4 linked regions of the Homo sapiens genome follow. The protein of the gene in region 4 interacts with the protein of the main gene of each other region in a pairwise test. Each region holds a gene or a part of one and is shown on either strand. Other genes may lie near its edges. The genes, in order: SFXN1, SMAGP, HMOX1 and SLC16A7.

Region 1 (6,683 bases), on a different chromosome or scaffold from region 4:
GACAACAGAGTTACTGTAGCAAAACAAATGCAGAAACATGGCCAAGGAAGTTAAAATGCTCAGCTCTGTATCAAGTCTTTTATTAAGGCACTCCCCAAACTTAGGTTAATTTAGACTTTCTCTGTTAGTAAATGCCAGTGCCAGGTTAGAATCAGATCAATAATATAGAAGCATGTTTCCATCACCGTCATGTGCAGAGGTGTTGGCCATCCAAGTTTCAAGCTGAAATCCATCCCCCACGCCCATCATTAATATTCCTGGAATCACATTGTCATAGGAGTTTGGGGGGTGGGTGGGTGTGCCTTTATGTATATGAGGTTCAAAAAGGTGGGAGACTGGTAGCCCAAAATAGAAATATATTTCTTGTTAAAGGCATAATACAAAAATATCTTTTCATTAGGAGTTGCTGATGGTACTGTAGATATTAACTTTGAATGAAAAGTACCATCAGTTGTAACACACAAACTGCTTTATCCTTTATGTACAAATAAAAGAGAGAATTTATTTTCATTCTGAGTTTATTTAACATTTCATCCAGTTGAACTGAAATAATACATGGCCTCCAACACTGGCAAGACGCTGTGCTAATACTGAAATAAAAGCTGCCAGTCAGTAAACACTTACAATCATCATCCTTTGTATCATGTTAATAGAAATATTAATAACTACTTAGCTTTATAAGCTTATTGCACTTCATGTGGATTTTTTTTTCTCCAGAAAAGGTATTTCTAAAAGATCGGCAAGGATTGCCAATCTTGATTTGTTCTTTCTTATAAACTGTGATCAACATACAGTTGATAGCTTTATATAAAAGCATTAAGAGTCTGAAGCATCAAAAAACAACGTTTAAAAAGATGCAGCTCCATGTTCATCATCCCTTTTATAATCTCTTTTTTTTTTTTTTGAGATGGAGTTTCGCTCTTGTTGCCCAGGCTGGAGTGCAATGGTGCGATCTTGGCTCACTGCAACCTCCAGCTCCCGGATTCAAGCGATTCTCCTACCTCAGCCTCCCGAGTAGCTGGGATTATAGGCATGTGCCTCCATGCCTGGCTAATTTTTTGTATTTTTAGTAGAGGCGGGGTTTCTCCATGTTGGCCAGGCTGGTCTCAAACTCCTGACCTCAGGTGATCCACCCGCCTCGGCCTCCCAAAGTGCTGGGATTACAGGGGTGAGCCACCGCACCCGGCCATTCCTTTTATAACCTTTCACACACATAACCGGAGTGTGTAAAATTTTGGTTAGTTTGTCAATCTTCTAACCAGTCATTAGCTCTTCACTGGAGGTTAACATTCTGAAATGGAGCTACACACTACCTGGTAGGGGGAGGACTCTGAGAGGAGCGGGACACCTGGGGCAGGCAGCAGTGCCTTAGCTTCTTATGAAAAGAGCCCTTCAGCACCTCATGGAGAGCTGCCCTGAATTTCAGGCTTTTACCACTTTATAAAGAGACGCGTCGAGGACAACAGAATCTGTCCAAGGCCAGAATGTCATGGGAAAACCGTTTTGCTTCCAATGGTTTAAGACAGAAAATCTAAATAAGAAGACTCTGGCAGCATCAAGGAAGGCTCTGAGTGGCCCAAAGCTTCAGATCTATTAATCCTTTCAGAGAAAAGAGAAACACAGACACAAGGCACGCCATTTTTTCTTTATGAGGAAATTCAGTCTGGTCACATTGTCAGAAAAAAAATCTACCAAAACTAAATAGTTTCTATATTTTTTTCATTTACAATCTCTGAATACAATGATCTACACTTCATGAAATGTCACCCCTCAGTATCCGTGGATGCTTGGTTCCAGGACCGCCCTCCGATACCAATATCTGCAGATGCTCAAGTTCCTGATATAAAATGGCACAGTATTTGCATATAACCTAGGCACATCCTCCTGTATACTTGCTAAATCATCTCTAGATTGCTTATAACACCTAATACAATGTAAGCACTATGTAAATAGTTGTTATACTGTATTGGTTTTTAAATTTGTATTATTTTTCATCGTTATGTATATTTTTTATCTTTTTAGAAAATATTTTCAGGCCGGGTGCGGTGGCTCACGCTTGTAATCCCAGCACCTTGGGAGGCCAAGGCGGGCGGATCACGAGGTCAGGAGATCGAGACCACAGTGAAACCCCGTCTCTACTAAAAATACAAAAAAATTAGCCGGGCGTGGTGGCGGGCGCCTGTAGTCCCAGCTTCTCAGAGAGGCTGAGGCAGGAGAACGGCGTGAACCCGGGAGGCGGAGCTTGCAGTGAGCCGAGACTACGCCACTGCACTCCAGCCTGGGTGACAGAGCGAGACTCCGTCTCAAAAAAAAAAAAAAAAAAAAAATTTTCCATCCAAACTTGGTTGAATTCACAGATATAGAGCTCACGGATACAGAGGGCCAACTGTCTATGACGTTAAACATCTACAGAGTTGAAACATAATCTGTCATATTAAATATATTATCTATGAAATCACTACAGATGATGTAAACAGTGGTACATGGTTTCATTATTTTCAAATGAAGTGGAATGCAACATACAATATTCAAGTAAAATTCATTGTGACTGATTCATACACACATTATCACTGTATCTTTCTGAAAGCCAAAGAGATCTATAAGGATGACAAGAAAAGACATGTAGGTAGCTGGAACTGTAGTCTCACTTCTTACCAAAAAAAAAACAATGAACTGGATTCAGCCCACTCATACAGCATTGGTATTGAATATACTTCCAAAATTTGACATTTGTACATTTCAGTTATTTCATTATTTGATGTAAATAATTGAATATAAAGTCAATAACTGCAAGGTAAGATTATCATCTTTATAAGAACAAAAAACAATAAATTAAAAGTCAACCAAGGCAATCCACTCACAATCTGAATGTATATAATGATCCAGCAGGGAAGGCATGTTGCAGTGGTCTGTGACTGACTTTTGGAAGGGGTGTGAAGGAGCTTTTACCCTCCAAATCCAAAAGCTTCATCACCTTCATTGGGCTAGCGCAATCCCCAAACTAGAAGCAAACTGCCCTTAATATTTCAGGGTAAGTTTTTATAGATTAGCCCAGAGCTTTTGTATTTTCCCAGTTCACTGCTGAGATCTCCTTGATTTGCAATGGGAGTGAGATGAAAATTCAGTATTTTAAACAGATTTCTTTTTTCACTGATTGATAATCAATAGAACATTTACTGACCATATACTGAGCACCTATTCTATGCCTACCAGTGCTTTTTTAAAACCTGGGTGAGGGCTGGTATATCGTCTTTGAAAAACAATGACTATAAAAGCTACAGGAAAGGTATTTCTATAAATCATAACATGATTCAGTGTAAGGGAGTATCAGGCACTTGGCCCACGCCAGGTGCTCTGTTAAAGTAGCAGCTTTATTCTAAAAGGCTAATGTGGATCTTTAAAAGGTTTCCGTAACTGGGAGAACCCAGGTTGAACAGGATTTTTCTCACCAGCATGGCTACACCAGCTTTGCAGTGGCAGAATGAGCTGCAGAGGTTTCCTCCCTGCTTTACAATCCCTTATTGAAGTACACGCGTCGCAATTCAGGATGGCTCTCTTGGATCTTAGCTTGCAACTCGGCCTCCAAGCTTGTCACAGACATGGAACTGGGATAAGGGAGAAATGACAGGGTTATTACACAGGCAGAGGTGAGAATCAGGACCTAGAAAGAGCAGGGAGAAGGCACAGGTGTGGAGATCCCAGGACTGGTACAGTGGGTCTTGTTGGAGAAATGCTTCATGCGGCTAGAAAACGAGATCACGTTCCTTTCAGAAAAATGTCACTCATAATGAAAGAAATGCACTGGAGAACCCAACACCCAACTTTTCCCTCTCATATCATTAAAAGGTGAAATCTCTTATTGCCGGCAAGAGTGTATGGTGATGACACTCTCAGGCCCTGCTGGTGTTGGAAAAACCATTTGTGGCAATGCCACTTCCTAAGAAAAACGTATCAATCATTTGCAATGTTCACCATTGATAAAAAAAGAGATATGCAATCAGTGAAATGCATAACATTGATAATCTGCCTACATTAATGTGCTTTTGTTTACTGTATGTAATACACGCTTATTAAAAAAATTTCAAAAAATACTAAAATGTACAAAAAAAAAAAAAAAACCAAAACATTTATAATCCCGCTGAGAGATAACCACTGTTAGTCTTTAAGTGCTTAAAAATGTATTTGAAGGTATTATGGGTGTATATATATTAAAGCTTATTCTTTAAGAGAAACGCACACTCATTAAAGTATAAAGAAAAATTGTCCAGAATACCTACCAGAAAAACTGCTAATATTTTGATATGTAATTAGTTTAAAAAAAATATTTGAGGCTGGGCGCAGTGGCTCACACCTGTAATCTCGGAGCTTTGTGAGGCTGAACCAGGAGGATTTCTTGAGGCCAGGAGTTTGAGACCAGCCTGGGCAACCTGGTGAGACCCAAATTTTTGTATCTATAAAAATAAAAAATAAGACAGGTGTGTTGGTGTATGCCTGTGGCTCCAGCTACTCAGGATGCTGAGGCAGGAGGGTTGCTCGAGCCCAGAAGTTCAAGGCTGTAGTGAGCTATGACTGTGCCATTGCACTCCAGCCTGGGCAAGAGAGTGAGACCCTGCCTCAAAAACAATAAAAAAATTGATTAATATAGTTGACATGTGATAGACTGTAAGGTTAAAAAAAGTCAGGATATAAGCTTATATTTAAAATATGCAAAACAAATTTTAAAAATTACGAATATAGAAAAAAGGTAGGAAAAAAAATCCCATGATGGCTATTGTTTATGTAGTGGGCCTTTGAGTGATTTTAAATGATGATGACGACACTGATGATGGTAATGATAATGGCTATGACTTACAGCTCACTTGCTGGGCCAGACGTTATGCATTTTAACCCTTAGGAAAACTCTGTAAGTCCAGTATTATAATTGTACAGGTAAGGAAACCTGAGGTGCAACTGAGATGTTGAAGGCAGATCTTTCTTGATCCCAAAGCCCTGCTATACCACCTCTTGGTCTTTCTGTTTTGCCACTGATCTCTAAGTATCTGTAATTACTATGAATGTATGTTAAAGGCCCAAGTCTGATCTTGGAATTAAAGTTATTCAAACCTTGGTGGATGATGGGGAGTATTCTCTTTTTTATCTTCCAGGAGAGTTTGTTTGAAATTGGAATAATCTGTTTCTTGACAGTTGGGAGAAACTTACCTGTAAAACTACCTGTTTCTTGTGTTTTCTTTGTAGGAGGAAGATTAAATGCTGCTTCAGCTTCCTTAATGACTATCTGGCCTATTCTGACTTTCTAATTTTTCAGCTTTGCTAATATTTTTTCCAGAAATTTGTCTATTTTGCTTGTTTTCAAATCTGTTGGTATAATGTTGGTATTATTTTTAATCACTGCTGAACCTACAGTTATACCTCTTTTTCATTCATATTATTTGTACTTTTCTCTTTCTCTTTTTGTTTTGATTAATCTCACCAGACAACTGTCTATTTTGTTTCTATTTTCAAAGAACCAAGATTTCACTTTGTTGATCCTCTACTCTTTCTGTTATTTATTTTATTGATTTCTGATCTTCATCTCCTTCCTTCCTTCTTTTCTGATGTTTATTCTTTTGTGCTTTTTTTTTTTTAAGTTGGGACATTTAGTGCATTGATTTTCAGCTATTCTTCATAATATAAACATTTAAAGCTATAAATATCTCTCAAAGCAACACATTTGCTGCTTCTCAAAAATGTTAATAAAGAATGTTTTCATTATCACTTGTTCACATAGGAGACGGGAAACTGTGGTGCATTCATACAATGCACTATTATACAACAACAACAATGAATGGACTATAGGTACACACAATAATGTAGATGAATCTTAGTTCTGACACTGAATAAAAAGAACAAGTACTAGAAGACTATACATCTTATGACAGTGTGACACCCTTGTCTAAAAAGTTCCTAAGACAAACTAAAGATACATACACAAATATAAAATGCAAGAGCATGAAATTCAGCATAGTGGTTAAATCTGCAGGGGAGGCAGGGACACAGGTTGGGAGGAGCCTATAAGATGTAACTTATTGGAGATATATATATATATATATATATATATATATATATATATATATATATTTTTTTTTTTTTTTTTTTTTTTGAGACAGAATCTCGCACTGTTGCCCAGGCTGGAATGCAGTAGCGTGATCTTGGCTCACCACAGCCTCTGCCTACTGGGTTCGAGCGATTCTCCTGCCTCATTGGGCACTGAATTTGTGGATATTCATTATATTATTAGTATAAGTAAAATAAAAATAAGCAAAACAGGGTCATGCTTGGATCAATGAGGATACTATGTTATGAGCCAAGGAAAAACTGAGGAGCCAGAGACCTCAAGAAGCCAAACATACAATGTATAAACAACAAAACAGAGTAAGAAGCTATTTTAAAATACAGTAAAACAAAAGAGGATTGGTTTCTCAAATGTAAAACCACACGCTTTCTGAGGGCCTTGACCTAAGGACACTAGTAGTTACAGAAAGCTTTCCATTTCTACCCCTAGAGTTTCAATGAATCATAAAAAATAAATGTTGGGCTATATTTTATTTCTTGCAGCACTCAAAGAAAAAAGGCCAAAGTAGAAAGTTTCTCTATGGGTTTTCAAATCTAAAACCCTTTCAATCTGAAAATAATTACAGCTACAT
Region 2 (7,053 bases), 8.3 Mb from region 4:
ACGGAGTCTCGCTCTGTCACCCAGGCTGGAGTGCAGTGGCAGAATCTCGGCTCACTGCAAGCTCCGCCTCCCAGGTTCACGCCATTCTCCTGCCTCAGCCTCCTGAGTAGTTGGGACTACAGGTGCCCGCCACCACGCCCGGCTAATTTTTTGTATTTTTTTAGTAGAGACAGGGTTTCACCGTGTTAGCCAGGATGGTCTCAATCTCCTGACCTCGTGATCCACCCGTCTTGGCCTCCCAAAATGCTGGGATTACAGGCGTGAGCCACCGCGCCCGGCCAATTTTTTTTTTTTTTTTTTTTTTTTGAGACGGAGTCTCATTCTCTGGCCCAGGCTGGAGTGCAGCGGCGTGATCTCGGCTCACTGCAACCTCTGCCTCCTGGGTTCAAGCGATTCTCCTGCCTCAGCCTCCCGAGTAGCTGGGACTACAGGCGCCCACCACCACGCCCAGCTGATTTTTTTGTATTTTTAGTAGAGACGGGGTTTCACCATGTTAGCCAGGATGGTCTCGATCTCCTGACTTCGTGATCCACCCGCCTCAGCCTCCCAAAGTGCTGGGATTACAGTATTTTTAGTAGAGAGGGGGTTTCACCATGTTGGTCAGGCTGGTCTCGAACTCCTGATCTCGTGATACACCTACCTTGGCCTCCCAAAGTGCTAGAATTACAGGTGTGAGCCACCGTGCCCAGCCTTAATTTTTTTTTTTTTTTTTTTCTGAGACGGAGTCTCACTCTGTCACCTGGGCTGGAGTGCAGTGGCTCAATCTTGGCTCACTGCAACCTCCGCCTCCCAGGTTCAAGCGATTCTCCTGCCTCAGCCTCCCAAGTAGCTGGGATTACAGGCACCCGCCACTATGCCCAGCTAATTTTTTGTATTTTTAGTAAACACAGGGTTTCACCATGTTGGCCAGGCTGGTCTCGAACTCTTGACCTTGTGATTTGCCCACCTCGGCCTCCCAAAGTGCTGGGATTACAGGCATGAGCCACCACACCCGGCCTGGGTGTCACAATTTTGAAGTGAGCAGGCAAACCATGTCAGATAAGGAAAGCTTGCAAGAGAAAGCCCAGAGAAAAAAAAGGGAGCCTAGAGCTTGAATTCTGTCTTCTAATATGCCAAGGCATGACCTGTACAAGAGAACTAACAGCAGAAACTGGGAAAGACAGATGTCTCCCCAACAGAAGGAAGAGCAAAACTGGACAAAAGCTACGTAGCATCTTGGAGAGAGAATTCTAGGACAGAATGGTTAGTTGAACTAGCTGAGCATCAGAACCCCTCTCAGCCTTAATTTTTGAATTTTTATAAATGGAAAGTGTTCTATTAGAATTCTCATTAAAATCAAATTTTAAAATAAAAAATCCAGACATACTTAGAATGTCTATCTGGAGAGGAATGATGAAATAAATTACAGGCCATCCATTGTGGAAACAGTTGCTAAAACGAATATGAGATCTACAATATTACTGGGACAGGATACATGGTTAGATGAAAAAAGCAAACTGCCAGGTGGTATATGTAGTAGGACTGCATCTTTGTTTAAAAAAAAAAAAAAAAGTAAATTGGCAGAGTGCAGTGGCTTACACCCATAATCCCAGCACTTTTGGAGGCTGAGGTGGGAGGATTGCTTGAGGCCAGAAGTTTGAGTCCAGCCTGGGCAACATAGCGAGACCCCTGTCTCTCTGTGTATTTTTTTTTAAGTAACTTTAAAAAACCCTATAAATATGCATATATATGTTTGTACATAGAAAAGGTCTAGAAAGCTGTTCTCTGAGGGGCATGTATTACCTTTCAAATAAAAGAACATGCTTGGCAAGGTGGCTTACACCTATAATCCCAGCAATTTGGGAGGCTGAGGCCAGAGGATCACTTGAGTCCAGGAGTTCAAGACCAACCTGGGCAACATGGCAAAACCCTGTCTCTACAAAAAATACAAAAATTAACTGGGCATGGTGGCACGCACCTGTGATCCCAGCTACTTGGGAGGCTGAGGTGGGAGGATCACCTGAGTCTGGGAAGGTTGAGGCTGCAGTGAGCTGTGATTGAGCCACTGCTCTACAGCCTGGGTGAAACTGAGGCCCTGTCTCAAAAAAAGAAAAAAAGGACAAACAACAACAAAATAAACTAAGTTCAGGAAAGCTGGCATAAAAGGAGGAAATGGCTTATAGCTTTTCCCCCATTCTCTCCCGTTTCTACCCCATTTTTTTGTCCAAACAAAGGAATAATTATTAAATAGCACTACAGTCTTTCCAAACCTTCCCTGCTCAGGTTCATAAGATTGAAGGCCCCACCCAAGTCCTAACCAATAGCAAATGACCTTCAAGATCTATTCTGTTCACTTACTCTTTTTTTTGTTAACCCAGATACTGGCTGGCTTCTTTGTGGTCCTTGTTCCCAGCTTGAGCTAAATCTCTTATCACTGAGGCATCAGATCTTTTGCCACCTAAGTCTGCCAGCCTACTTATTTGCTCTAGACCTGCCCAGCAGAGGGCGGCTCCCCGAGTTCTTTCCATGGGAAGCCACCCTGGGACTCGGCCCCCTTTCTTCTGCCTTCTCTTTCATGTGCACCAGCCAGTTGGGTGGAGTGAGACCTTGGGAGCAGTACACCATGACAGAAAGAACACAGGCTTGCAGTAAATCAGACTTGGCGCAAAATCCTGCCTCTGCCATTACTAGCTGTGTGACCTTGGGAAATTTTTTTAATCTTTGAAAATTTAACGGTGACTCATGCCTGTAATCCCGGCACTTTGGGAGGTCGGGGTGAGTGAATCACTTGAGATCAGAAGTTCGAGACCAGTCTGGCCAACATGGTGAAACCCTGTCTCTACTAAAAATACAAAAATTAGCTGGGCATAGTGGTGGGCGCCTATAGTCCCAGCTACTCGGGAGGCTGAGGCAGGAAAATTGCTTGAACCCGGGAGGCAGAGGTTGCAGTTAGCCGAGATTGCACCACTACACTCCAGCCTGGGTGACAAGTGGGAAATTCCATCTCAAAAAAAAAAAAAGAAAAGAAAATTCCTTAACTCCCCTGAACTTCAGTTTTTCCTTCCGTAAAATGAGACTAAAACTTGTTTCATTGGGTTGTGGTGAGGAATAAGTGCAATGAAAAATGCTGCTTTGGGAGGCTGAGATGGGAGGATCACCTGAGGCCAGGAGTTTGAGACCAGACTGGGCAACACAGTAAGACCTTATTTCTACAAAAAATTATTTTTAAAATAAAATAAAGAAAAATGCTAAGTGTCTAATACAGGGTGAGGACAACCTAGGCGGTAGCTGGTGTGATCATTTGGTGGCAAGAGATGAGCTTTACCTGGCACGGTGGGCAAAGCCCACAAGGCACAGTTCCACTCTGCCCTACTTCGAATAGGGCTGACTTATGCACTAGGCACAACAGGCACAGTGCCCTGGGCCCACAATGCTTCGAAAGGCCCATGAAAATGTTTTAAATAATTTTCATTTCTTTTATAATTAGAAGAAGGAAAAGAAACAAAATTTTAGGTCAAAGAAATATTAAGGTTGTTATGCCATTCAATTACTAATTATAAATATTAATTATATTATATTATATTCTTCCTTACACTGATGCAGTTGTAAAATATGATTTTTAATATTTTTTTAAGTGAAGGAGGAGCCCACAAAGACAGAAGTGCCCAGGGCTCAGGAGTCATAATGTGGCCCTTCCTTTCAAGGTTCCTGGAGGATATCTTCTCTAGGAAGTCTTTATAGACTGTGAGGGAGGAATAGGTGGGAAGGTGGGGGAAGAGAAATGCAAGACAGGGGTAGAAGAGAAGAGCTGGCCTTTAGTGATCCCATCATTTAAAGTATAAGCTTTCTTCCTATCTGTGATTTCTATTCTTTTGTCTATTGCTGTCTCTGAACTTACACTTGCTTGGACCCAGTGGATAGGAGACTGTCCTAAATCACTACTTCACTCATGTCACTCGCTGGATCAAGAATGCAGCCAGGTGAGGTGGCTTGCGCCTATAATCTCAACAACTCAGGGGCAGAGGAAGGAGCATGGCTTCAGGCCGGGAGAGTTGCCTGAGCAACATAGCAAAACCCTATCTCTACAAAAAATTTTAAAATTAGCTGGGCGTGATGGTGCACGCCTGCAGTCCCAGCTGCTCAGGAGTCTGAGGTGGGAGGATCCCTCAAGCCCAGATGTTTGGGTCTGTAGTGAGCCAGGATTGTGCCACTGCACTCCAGCCTGGGCAACAGAGTAAGATCCCATCTCTTAAAAAAAAAAAAAAAAAAAAAAGGTCAGGCACAGTGGCTCATGCCTGTAATCCTAGTACTTTGGGAGGCCAAGGCAGGCGGATTGCCTGAGCTCAGGAGTTTGAGACCAGCCTGGGCAACATGGTGAAACCCCGTCTCTACTAAAATACAAAAAATTAGCCGGGTGTGGCAGCGTGTGCCTGTAATCCCAGCTACTCAGGAGGTTGAGGCAGGAGAATTGCTTGAACCCGGGAGGTGGAGGTTGCAGTGAGCCGAGATGGTGCCACTGCAATCCAGCCTGGGTGACAGAGCAAGACTCCATCGCCAGAAAAAAAAAAAAAAAAAGAGAAAGAGAGAGAGGACTGATTCAACGATCAATTTTTTAAAAAAAATTTTTAAAGGATATAAATATACAACTGAACAAGAACAAAACAAATCAACTAAAAAATGGGACAAGACTTGAATAGACATTTCTCCAAAGATATACAAATGGTCAATAAGTACATGAAAAGATGCTCCACATCACTATCACTAGGGAAATGCAAATCAAAACCACAATGAGATACCACTTCACACACAATATGATGACTACCATTAAACAGAAAGTAACAAGTGTTGGCAAGGTTGTAGAGAAACTGAAACCTTTATGCATTGCTGGTAGGAATATAAAATGGTGCAGCTGCTGTGCAAACCTATATGGTGGATCCTCAAAAAAATCAAACACAGAATTACCACATGATATAGCAATTCCACTTCTGAGCATACATCCCAAACAACTGAAAGCAGGGTCTCAAGAAGATATTTGTACACCCATGTTTATGGCAGCATCAGTCACAATAGCCAAAAGGTGGAAGCAACTCAACTGTCCATCATAGATGAATGGATAAACAAAATGTAATATACACATACAACAATATTATTCAGCCTTGAAAAAGTAGGAAATTGTGACATGCTACAATATGGATGAACTTTGAGAATATTATGCTAAGTGAAGTTAGCCAGACACAAAAGGTCTATTGTATGATTCTACTTACATGAAGTACCTAGAGCAGTCAAATTTACATAGACAGAAAATAGAACGGTGTTTGCAGGGAAATGGGGAATCAGTGTTTAATGGGTGTCAAGTTTCGGTTTGGGAAGGTAAAGTTCTGGAGATGGATGGTGGTGAGGAACATGAATTACTTAATACAGTAGTCCCCCCAGGCCAGGCACTGGCCTGTAATCCCAGCACTTTGGGAGGCCGAGGTGGGCGGATCACGAGGTCAGGAGATCAAGACCATCCTGGCTAACACGGTGAAACCCCGTCTCTACTAAAAATACAAAAAATTAGCCGGGCGTGGTGGTGGGCGCCTGTAGTCCCAGCTACTCGGGAAGCTAAGACAGGAGAATGGCGTGAACCCATGAGGCGGAGCTTGCAGTGAGCTGAGATGGCGCTACTGCACTCCAGCCTGGGTGACAGAGCGAGACTCCGTCTCAAAAAAAAAAAACAACAGTAGTCCCCTCTTATCTGCGGTTTTGCTTTCCTAGGTTTCAGTTACCCGTGGTCAACTGCAGTCCGAAAACATTAAATAGAAATTTAACAGAAAAAGAAAATTCCAGAAAGGAACAATTCATACATTTTAAATTATGTACCGTTCTGAGTAGCGTGATGAAATCTCACACCCTGCTCCATCCTGCCTGGAAAGTGAATCATCCTTTTGTGTCCATGCTATAAACGCTTAGTAGAGTACCACAGCGCTTGTGTTCAAGTAACCCTTATTTTACATGACAGTGGCCCCAAAGCACAAGAATAGTGATGCAATTTGGACATGCCAACAAGAAGTGCTTCCTTTAAGTGAAAAGGTGAAAGTTCTTGACTTAAGAAAAAAAAAAAAAGAACTGTGTACTGAGGTTTCTAAGATCTATAGTAAATAAGACATTTTAAGTGAGAGAGACCATTTTCACATAACTCTTATTACAGTATATTGTTATAGTTGTTCTATTTTATTATTATTGTTAATCTCTTACTGTGCCTAATTTACAAGTTAAGCTTTATCATAAGTATGTATGTACAGGAAAAAACACAGTATAGATGGGGTTCAGTACTATCTGAGATTTCAGGCATCCACTGGGGTTTTTGGAATGAATCCCCTGTGGATAAGCGGGGACTACTCTACCACTGAATTGTCTGCGAAAAAATGGCTAAAATGGTAATACCTGTACTATGTTTATTTTACCATAAATTTTAAAAAAGAAAAAATGGCATGAGCCTGTAATCCCAGCACTTTGGGAGGCCGAGAAGGGCAGATCACTTGAGGCCAGGAGTTTGAGACCAGCCTGGCCAACATGGCGAAACCCTGTCTCCACTAAAAGTATACAAATTAGCCAGGCGTGGTAGCGCACGCCTGTAATTCCAGCTACTAGGGAGACTAAGGTGGGAGAATTGCTTGAACCCAGGGGGCGGAGGTTGCAGTGAACCGAAATTAAGCCACTGTACTCCAGCCTGGGTGACACAGCAAGACTTGGTCTCAAAAATAATAATAATAAAATTTAAAAAATGTAAACAGCTCCCCCTTGCCAAGGTTCTAATCCCTCAGCTAGCTGCCAAGGTATCACCTTTTTTCCCTTGTGGGCAGGATTATTCTGGAGGTCCTCTGCCCACCCGCTTCCTGAACATCCTCCAGGGTAAATCGTCTCTGTAGCTTCACACATGGTATGAGGTATTCTACCTTTATCTAGAGCAGGTACACACGAAAAAGGTATTCTACGTTTCTCTAAGATACCTGCTGCGCCCCTTTGCCTGTATGAACCTTGTCCGTCTTTCAAGGGCAAGACTCAGATCCCCTTCCTCACCCACCCATGAAG
Region 3 (3,665 bases), on a different chromosome or scaffold from region 4:
TTTCCACCAAACAGGGCAACCCCATCTTCCATAAAGTCGAGAATTGCATCAAGCAGGGTTCAACACAAATATTCGCCCACCAGCTACTTAAAGCTCACCTCCTGGGCCAGGCACGGTGGCTCACGCCTGTAATCCCAGCACCTTGGGAAGCTGAGGCAGGTGGACCAGCTGAGGTCGGGAGTTCGAGACCAGCCTGGCCAACATGGGGAAACCCCATCTCTACTAAAAATACAAAAATTAGCTGGGCATGGTGATGAACTTCTGTAATCCCAGCTACTCAGGAGGCTGAGGCAGGAGAATTGATTGAACCTGGGAGGTGGAGCTTGCAGTGAACCAAGATCACGCCACTGCACTCCAGCCTGGGTGACAGAGTGAGACTCCATCTCAAAAAAAAAAAAAAAGAAAAGAAAAGCTCACCTTCTGTATTCTCAAACAGACCAGCTCCTGCCAACCCCCTATCACCACTTCTCCTACCGAGCACGCAAGAAACCAGGGAGGAAAAGGTCAGTTCCCCAAGAATAACAAAGCCCATGAAAACTACTTCAAGCTACTATCAGACAATGTTGTTTATTATTTCACACAAAAGTTAGACCAAGGCCACAGTGCCGTTAAACACCTCCCTCCCCACCCACGCATGGCTCAAAAACCACCCCAACCCTGCTATAAAAACAACAGAACACAACAAAAATACTGCATTTGAGGCTGAGCCAGGAACAGAGTGGCTCCAACAAAAATAAGACAAAAACACAAGACACAACATCTTTTCAGGTTTGTGTAAAAATTGCCATGGCCCACGGGGAAAGTGGTCATGGCCGTGTCAACAAGGATACTTGAAACTCAGGGCTTTTGGAGGTTTGAGACAGCTGCCACATTAGGGTGTCTTCCAGGCTCTGCTGCAGGAACTGAGGATGCTGAAGGGCAGGGCTGATCCCTTCGCCCCCTCTGAAGTTTAGGCCATTGCCTGGATGTGCTTTTCGTTGGGGAAGATGCCATAGGCTCCTTCCTCCTTTCCAGAGAGAGGGACACAGTGAGAGGGCTGGAGGCCCTGAAAGCCTTCAGTGCCCACGGTAAGGAAGCCAGCCAAGAGAATTCCCTCTCTAGAAAGAAGGCCTTCCACCGGACAAAGTTCATGGCCCTGGGAGCCAGCATGCCTGCATTCACATGGCATAAAGCCCTACAGCAACTGTCGCCACCAGAAAGCTGAGTGTAAGGACCCATCGGAGAAGCGGAGCCTGGGAGCGGGTGTTGAGTGGGGGCTTCCCTCTGGGAGTCTCCACGGGGGCAGAATCTGAAAGAGAAAATGGGGCAAGGTCATTAACAGGTGGGCGTGCATCAGGGTGTCTGATGTCATAGGAAAGCAAAGCAGAGCGGCCTCAGGGTCTGTGGTACAGTCACTGCCCAACGCCAGGATTCTGCAAGACCACAGACAGGTGTCCCTCTAGCCACTGCTTGAATACCTTCAAAGACGGGCAGCTCACTACTTCTTCAAGCTGTCTGTTCTTCCCTGTGCAGCCAGGCCACATTGTGAAAACATTCTTGGGCCCAGGCGTGGTTTTCAGACTTCTGCCTGCTCCCTGTCCTCTCCTTAAACTTTGCCAGCAATTAGGTCTGAGCTGTAAATCTTCCTCTCAAACTCACACGTTTGCTAAGCATGGTGATGATGGGGCAGGAGCTAGAAAGCAGGAGCTCTGAGGTCAAAATTCAAGTTCAGTCCCATCCCTGGTTATTAAAATGTGATAGGGCCGGGCGCAGTGGCTCACGCCTGTAATCCCAGCACTTTGGGAGGCCAAGGCAGGTGGATCACGAGGTCAGGAGTTCAAGACCAGCCTGGCCAATATGGTGAAACCCCGTCTCTACTAAAAATACAAAAAATTAGCCGGGTATGGTTGCGAGTGCCAGTAATCCCAGCTACTCGGGAGGCTGAGGCAGAGAATTGCTTGAACCCAGGAGGCAGAGGTTGCAGTGAGCCAAGATTGCGCCACTGTACTCCAGCCTGGGCAACAGAGTGAGACTCCATTTCAAAAAAAAAAAAAAAAAAGATTTAAAACATGATAGGCCAGAGCCAACCATGCAACCTGGGTAGATGTGCCACCTGCCTCCTCAGGCACAGAGTGGGTGCTCCCTAGGTCTTTAGAAGCAGGACAGAGTCCAGGGCAGGTCTCTGGAGCCAGACCAGCTGGGTTTCAATCCTAGCCCCGCCCTGGGCTATGAGAAGGGCTTCCCCAGAGAAAACAGGGCCTTAGGTCTGGTGGCCCAGGGCTGCGGTCACAGGAAGTACAAGCAAGCAAGCAAGCAAGCAGGTACACTGTGACATTTACATGTGTGTTGTTCATATTAAAGGCTCCTGCTCCTTCTGATGCATTAGGGGTGCAGTTCTCAAATGTTTTGGTTCCAAAACTCCTTTATACTCAAATGCAACCAAGGATCCAAAAGAGCTTTTGTTTGTGTGAGTATAGCTATCACTATTTACAAAATTAGATATTAAAACTGAGAAATTCTTTTTCTTTTCTTTTCTTTCTTTTTTTTTTTTTTTTGAGATGGAGTCTCGCTGTCGCCCAGGATGGAGTACAGTGGTGCAATCTCGGCTCACTGCAACCTCTGCCTCCCGGACTTAGGAGATTCTCCTGCCTCAGCCTCCCGAGTAGCTGGGATTACAGGTGTGCACCATCACACCCAGCTAATTTTTATATTTTAGTAGAGATGGGGTCTCACCACATTGGCCAGGTTGGTCTCAAACTCCTTACCTCAAGTGATCCCCGTGCCTCAGCCTCCCAAAGTGCTGGGATTACAGGCATGAGCCATCGTGCCCGGCCAAAACTGAGAAATTCTTAACATACAAGAACATACAGGCACACATTCCATGAGCCATCAAATCCATGAGAGAGCATCACATGTCACATAACCTTTGGAAAATGCCAACACACATTCATGAGAAAGTGAAACTCTAATTTTCTCATTTATTTTTGGCTTTTTTAAAAAAAGCCAAAAAAAAAAAAAATCTGGGTGTGGTGGCACGTGCCTATAGTCCCAGTTACTCAGGAGGCTGAGGTGGGAGAATCCCTTGAACCTGGGAGGTTGAAGCTGCAGTGAGCTGTGATTGTGCCACTACACTCCAGACTGGGTGAAAGAGCGAGACCCTGTCTCAAAAAAAAAAAAAAAAAAAAAAAAAGGCCGGGCGCGGTGGCTCACACCTGTAATTACAGCACTTTGGGAGGCCGAGGCGGGCGGATCACAAGGTCAGGAGATCGAGACCATCCTGGCTAACACAGTGAAACCCCGTCTCTACTAAAAATACAAAAAATTAGCCAGGCATGGTGGCGGGCACCTGTAGTCCCAGCTACTCGGGAGGCTGAGGCAGGAGAATGGCGTGAACCTGGGAGGCGGAGCTTGCAGTGAGCCGAGATCATGCCACTGCACTCCAGCCTGGGTGACAGCAAGACTGTCTCAAACGAAAAAAAAAAAACCAAAAAAATAGTAGTAGTGTTATAAAAATGCTTTGTCCTCACAGACCCCGTTGAGGGGATACTAGGATTACCACCTCCCACAGCCAGGGTACCACACTTTGAGAACTGCTTCATTAGGGTGACGTCTCCCTACCCCACCAAATAGCCAAGCCCTCCGGGGTTACAAACCCCTAGCAGAGGGGTCCGTGTGGTCTGGCACAA
Region 4 (7,053 bases):
AGTGGTTGAGCTGGGGCAAGCACCGATGCGATCTGTTTGGCTTTAACCACTGTGTCATATAGCTTCTGCCTTGCATGAAGCTAAATAAGAGCAAAGACCTTACCTGTTGTTTTCTCCATAGCCCAGTACAGTGTCTGGCATGTCATGGTTCAGAACAACTGATTATAGAAAGAAGGAAAGAGGGAGGGAAGCAGAACTAGAGGGAAGGAGGAAGAGGAGGAAATAAAAATTAGCAAGTCCAAGTGTCTCCCGCCTTCAACACTGAATCTGGCAGGAAATCCAGCATGAACTCTGCCCTGAGAACACAATAGTTGAGGCTCTTTTGAGGATTCCTTTTCCTTGTCTTGCATCTAATCATCTAGTTTATGATGCTCATTTATGCAGAATAGGAAAATATTCTCTTTGGTTTGACAAATTAGCAAAAGGTGCCCATGAAGTGCAAACATCAAAGAGTGACCTACTCAAGGTGGACCAGGAAAAAAAAAGAAGGAAGAAATTAAAAGGGCAGACCATAATGCAGGGGCACTGGATTTAAATTTTAGTTAAGCCACTGGCTGGCTTTGTCTTATGCAATGTTGTGGTAGTACTTGTATTGTTGTTCTGAACACCAAAGACGATAACAAATATAAGCTGTTTTATACTGTGCCTGATAAATAGAATGGCATGCGGCAAAGAATAATTACATTCTGTTATTGCCCTTTGTTCCCCTCCTCCCTTCAACTCATCCCAAATAAAAAGTACCCTCCTGTTTTCCACATCTTGAAGTAATCTGTGTTCATCTGAACTACTTCGTAACTTGATCTGGGCTTCTCTTAGGCTGATTCTTATATTTTACCTTGAATTACAATTATTTGGGAAGGCATCCTATCTCTCTTCCTGGGCTACATGGTCTTTGAGAGTAGATGGTATATCTGATTCATCTTGGAACCTCTGTGGAGCTGCTGCTTGGGACAGGACAGGGCAGACGAGGGGCTCTGAAGTCCAGCCTGTCTGGGTTTTGATTTTAGCTTTGCCACTTATCAACAAAGACAAGTTGCTAGACCTCTTTAAGTCTCGGTTTCTTCATGTGTAAAAATAGAATAGTAACCAATTTTGTATATTGGTTGTAAACATTAAATGAGATAATATCTGTGAAATAGCACTGTGCTGAGCACATACATAGAAATAACTCAATAACTACTTTTAGGTATTAAATATTTGGCTTTATGTTTTTTAGTTTATCATAAGCATCACTGGCTTATTTTTAACAGATTTTTGGGAACTCTGAAATGCCAAACTTGCCATTAGATGGCACAACAAAGTTGAATTGCATAATAAACCATTAAGTGGACTCCCTTTGAGAAGTCATCCTGGTTTGTCACAGGCTTTCTCAAAACTGTTTGGATCAAAGTGATTAAGAAATATCTTGGGAAACATCTGCACACTAGCTCTCAGTGAATAATGGAACTTTTTTTTTTTTTTAACTTGTGAGAAAGCTTCATTTTCTCAGTTGCTGCTATAAATGGTGAATCCAGGGGCTGAGTCTACCTATGTGAGAGATCCAGCTGTTTAAAATCATAATATGAGAGACTAGCCTAAAATGGACCATTGTCGAGAGGAATAAATAACACTTATCACACGTATTTGGTAATTAGTAAATAAGTGGAGGGTCTTTATATATCAACTGTAATCATTAAAAATGTGGGAGAAAATTAAACAAATTGGAGCTGACTATAATAAAACTAGTCCAGCTGGAGCTGGACTAACTGGGACTTGGGTGCACCATAGACAATTTCAACATATTCACAAATATCAGTGTTGATAAATGAAGCAAGTATTTTTGGAAATAATTTTTCTGACCTAATACTAAAACTCCCGCAAATGTTTTCATTAATACTCATTGAAGTCTCAAAGGACCTCATGAAAATCCTATGGGACAACTGAACGACAGCTACAAGATACTGGCCTAAAGGTACTTTCGTTAAGTTCCACAAAAATGTCTGTATGGTTCAATTATAGAGCCTGGTGATTAGTTTTATGTAATAGTTGGCATTAAAATAGCAACTTTCAATAGAAAATATTTTGTGTAAGTGGTGAACACAAATGAAATATTTGTTTAGATAAATAAAGATCCATATACAGTGTTGGTATTTTGTAGAAAGCATTTTATTATAAGCATTTGCTGTTTCTCCACCTCATAATACAATATGTATCATTATTAATTAGTCAATACCTCTAATCAGATTTCTATTGAAGCTAATATGTAAAAGAATGGTACTTTTTACAAAGCAGCTGCCCTACTAAGTAATTAACTTGAATATCTATATCTTTTTTAACTAGATTAGATAAGAATAAAAAATAAAACTACAAAGCATGCATTTGATAAGTTTCTAAGGGATATTAACATTTATCTTATTTTAAAAATGATTTTCAAAATTTCTAGGATTTGAAGTTCCATCAGTTCTTCTCAAATATGTGAAAGGCAAATTCAGTGATAAATGGCAGTCGGTGACAGTATTTTTCAACAGGTGGGATTATTGGCATTTGGGGTGGGACACTTTTTCATTGTGTAGGACTGTCTCTTTCATTGCAGAGCATTGGGTGTCTGTGACCTTTCTGAGTAAATTTGGGCTGCGATAACAAACTATAGACAGATTAGGTAGCTTATGAACAACAGAAATTTATTTCTCACAGTTCTAGAGGCTGGAAATCTGAGATCAGGGTGCTGGCATGGTCCAGGTGTTGGTGAAGGCCTCTTCTGGGTTGTAGACTGCTGGTTTCTTATATCTTCACATGGTGGGATGAGAGTGAGAGCTCTCTTTTATAAGGGTGCTAATCCCATTCATGAGAGTTCCTTCCTTATGACCTACTTAACTCCCAAAGTCCCCATGTCTTAATACCACTCCTTTGGGGATTAGGACTTCAACATGAATTTTGGAGGCACACATTAAGTCCGTAACAATGATCTATCTCTGTTTTCTATAAGTCAGTGGCTTTCCCTTAGTCATTGTAACAATCAAAAATGCCTCTCTACATTTTAATATACCTGTGGTGGAATGGTGATCCATATGGTTGAAAACTGTCAGCCAATAAGATCAAATTGAGATTGTTTAAACAATTTATTTGGGATCAGAGTACTTTCAGAGTACTTTCAAAATTATTTTGCCTTTCATTAAAGGATGAAAATAATACTCTTGTATAAAAATATTTTGTTTTGAAACAATGAGTTCTTTATTAGTAAGGCATAACAACTGTTAACTTTAATAATCAGAGCATCATTGACCTCCTAGCCTCCAAATTATTTGCTTTGGACTGTTAATAACCTTTGGCAGTATTCATCCCTAATGCTTCTTGAACTCCTGTTTTGGCTTTCATGTGCTCTTTATTTTGTTACTTCTCTCACCGCTCATTTACTGCTTCTTCTCCAGCTCGCCTTTCACCTCGTATTCAATATAAGTATGTCTTCCCCAGTTTGTGTTTTGGGCTTTTTTTTTTTTTTTTTTTTTTGAGACAGGGTTTCACTGCAACACCCAGGCTTGGGTGCAATGACATGAACTTGGCTCACTGCAACCACCACCTCCTGAGTTCAAGTGATTCTCCTGCCCCAGCCTCCTGAGTAGCTGGGACTATAGGCGCCCACCATCACGTCTGGCTAATTTTTTGTATTTTTAGTAGAAATAGGGTTTCACCATATTGGCCAGGCTGGTCTCGAACTCCTGACCTCAAGTGATCTGCCCACCTTGGCCCCCAAAAGTGCTGGAATTACAGACATGAGCCACTGAGCCTGGCCAGACTTTTCTTTAGCCTGCATTCTGTTGATTGACAAAGCTCATCTGCTCTGGACCTCCGCTTTCACCTCAGTAGGAATAACTCCCAAGCCATTTGCTGTAGTCCTGACCTTCCCTCAACTTTTAGGCATTTCCAGACATTTCTAGATGTTTGCAGGACAGCTTCTCTTTACTGTGCTTTTGATACTTCCAGTATCCTGTGGTCTCTTCCTTCCTTTTTGTCTTCTTTCTTTCTGTCACCCCCATTCTTCATATTGATATCAGCAGTATTCTAGCCTAGAAGCTTTTGAGACCACCCTTTCTCTGGACTTGTGTACATCCAAAATAATTTTTTAATTATTTATTTCTATTCTGTTGTTGCCAGAAGTTTCAGGTGCTTTTGACATACTACCTACAGTCATGTAATAGTCTCTTAGTGGGTATTCCCACCTCTGGTCTCTCACCCTACCAGTTAATTCTGTACATGGTATCAGATACTCTCATGGAAGCACACCTTTGTTAAGTAACACTCCCATCACCTAGGTCCAAGGACTGACATTTCAGTCCCTGCATGATGTAAGTCCAAACAGCTGTTCCATGTTCATCTCCCACTACCATCATACTCAACTCAAATGGAACTGTCCTCATGCCTCGTTCATTCTCATTCTACTTCCTACCGCCAAATCTTTGGCCATGCTGTTCTTTTATCTTGAAATGAATCTAACGTCCTACGATTTCTAGCTCTAACCTCACCTTCTAAGAAGTTGAGCTTAAACACCACATACAAATTTTCCTCTGACACCTCTGGATAGGTAGAATAATTTTTCTAAAATTTCAGGAACATTATGTTTATAATGTCTTATTTGACATTGTATAATAGAATGTCTTGACATTCTATTATATTTGATTTTATATAATTATTCAGTTTCTTAATATACTATAAAGTTGTAGATGTCAGGAATAATAATGTATTCATATTTATGTCATCTTTAGCATTTTGGTGGATTATAGAGTTGCAAGAAACTTGGAGGACATCTGTTTCCACTTTTATGTGTTGTTTTCATTATGTTCAATAAACCACCATCTATTATTTAAGTGTACACACTGAGGCAGACTGTTCTTTTAAAGGCAGTTCTACTTGTGACTCAAATTTTCTTGTTTCTACCTAGGGTCTTTGTTCAGCTTCCTGGGGCCACATGAAATGAATCCCTTTCTCATTTGAATGACATACTCTACCAATGTGGTGACAGCTCACATGTCTTTTGTTTTCTCTATCAATTTAACATATTCAGTTTTTCTTCCTGTTTTTTGCATGTGACCTGGTTACATTCTTTATTTAAGGCTGCTGTATTGTGGAGTAATTCAACTTTAGGAAAGTCCACAAATGCATAGAATACTTCAAGGATAACAATGGTTTTGAATGTAAATATTGGAATTGTTTTTCATGATGTAACTTGTCAATATCTCTTCAGGTGTCAGGGTGGGAAATCAAGGTATATATAGCGATCTACCTCTGGGAGAATCCCATAGTTATCTCAGGGCTGAACTTTCCTTTCTGTGCCAACAGTTTAATAAATAAATAAATGAATAAACCACTGGAGGATGATAGGAAAGCTCACTTTAACTTTTGATTGTAATTGGAAATTAGCCACTCAGTAAAATTATACTCTTTTATAGATTAATGCCCTAAGTAGTAAAACAACAAACATGTCTTGTGTGTGTGTGTGTATAATAAGTGAATTTAAGGACATTGGACCAAATAAGTGGCTATTAAGTAAAGTTATAAAGATAAGCTTTAAGTAAGAATAGCTTACATTTGTTGAACACTTCTATATTTAATACCTTACATGTTTTAACTAATTTAATCCTCAAAACCTTATGAGGAAGCATTTTTGTTATCCTCATTTTACAGATGGGCAGAGTAGAGCACAGAGGTGAAGTATTTTGCCCAAGGTTACACATCTTGTCATTGGAAGGGTCTGGATTTTAATCTGTTGAACAAAATGTACCTTTTCAATAGTATTAATTTCAAGTATTTCATGCTGCAGTAAATTTTAAGACATTCTTGGGAAAAGTCCGATAATTTTATTTTTTTTCTTTTTTGAGACGGAGTCTCACTCTGTCACCCAGGCTGGAGTGCAGTGGCACAATCTTGGCTCACTGCCAGCTCTGCGTCCTAGGTTCATGCCATTCTCTCGCCTCAGCCTCCCAAGTAGCTGGGACTACAGGCGCCCGCCACCACGCCCGGCTAATTTTTGTTTTTGTATTCTTAGTAGAGATGGGGTTTCACCATGTTAGCCAGGATGGTATTGATCTCCTGACCTTTTGATCCTCCCACCTCAGCCTCCCAAAGTGCTGGGATTACAGGCAAAGTCTGATAAATATTTTTTCAAACAGAGACTAGTAGTCAGGTATAATGAGTTTGGGTCTGTTACAACATAAAGTCAACAGGAATGATAAGGCTTCCTTACTATTTGAAGGAGTTACCTGGAACCAAGCTAGAAAGCTTAGAGAAAGTAACAACCCCTTGTGGATTCAAGGAGGCTGGAGAACCAGTAGGGACCGAAGGAACAGTAAGTCCAGGATGTCATTCCTATAACTCAGTTTGCAAGGTGGTAGGGATAGAATACGTGGGAGGTGGCAAGACTCCCATGGAAGCCCTGTGCTGTGGGTATCAGTGAGTGCATGAACAGAGTAGGGTCTGGAGAATTCTCATAGATGGGTATATATCAAATTTACAGTGAAGAGGGATTTTGAATAAAGCCTCTGACATATTTTAAGGCATAGAATGCAGTACTTTAACAACTATTTATTCCCCTGCTGTGTTCCAGACACTGTTTTGGATGTTAGAGAGATGGCTGTAAATAGAACAGGTAAGTCCTTTTTAGTCTTGAGTTACACAGATATCAAATATATTCTCAAAGCAAGGTTAAGCAATTTATGTCCTTGAGCCAATTTTTTTTGTAGACCTCTCATGCCATCTTCTCTATGTAGCCAGTCTTATTCTGTAGTTATCTCTTTATTCTCTTTTCCTTTTTTCTCAATCTGTGTCACATGTCAGATCAGAGACTTTGAAGACAGATAGATATAGCCCAATGAAATTTCGACTAAGCTACTTCTAAGCTGTTTGACCACAGTCAAGGTATGTAACTTTTAGAGCCCCAGTTTTCTCATTTTGGAAATAATAAAATTTATTTTATGAGTTGTTGTTGGAGAAATAATGTAGGTAGTCAATAAATGATAATCATCATCATGTCATTTTTATCTCTACCTTTATTTTTGGCATATATTGAGGCAGAACTTCTTT

The links.
Region 1: the proteins of SLC16A7 (region 4) and SFXN1 interact in binary tests that used the Homo sapiens proteins (3 or more experiments, as listed by UniProt).
Region 2: the proteins of SLC16A7 (region 4) and SMAGP interact in binary tests that used the Homo sapiens proteins (3 or more experiments, as listed by UniProt).
Region 3: the proteins of SLC16A7 (region 4) and HMOX1 interact in binary tests that used the Homo sapiens proteins (3 or more experiments, as listed by UniProt).

The regions. Positions count from the first base shown.
Region 1 is NC_000005.10:175,523,560-175,530,242, reverse strand, and holds the end of SFXN1 (sideroflexin-1), read right to left. Parts: intron 3,606-6,683; coding exon 3,509-3,605; 3' UTR 501-3,508; downstream 1-500. UniProt on the Homo sapiens protein: Amino acid transporter importing serine, an essential substrate of the mitochondrial branch of the one-carbon pathway, into mitochondria.
Region 2 is NC_000012.12:51,260,398-51,267,450, forward strand, and holds part of SMAGP (small cell adhesion glycoprotein), read right to left. Parts: intron 1-7,053. UniProt on the Homo sapiens protein: May play a role in epithelial cell-cell contacts. May play a role in tumor invasiveness and metastasis formation.
Region 3 is NC_000022.11:35,391,091-35,394,755, reverse strand, and holds the end of HMOX1 (heme oxygenase 1), read right to left. Parts: intron 1,289-3,665; coding exon 1,158-1,288; 3' UTR 549-1,157; downstream 1-548.
Region 4 is NC_000012.12:59,599,016-59,606,068, forward strand, and holds part of SLC16A7 (monocarboxylate transporter 2), read left to right. Parts: intron 1-7,053. UniProt on the Homo sapiens protein: Proton-coupled monocarboxylate symporter. Catalyzes the rapid transport across the plasma membrane of monocarboxylates such as L-lactate, pyruvate and ketone bodies, acetoacetate, beta-hydroxybutyrate and acetate.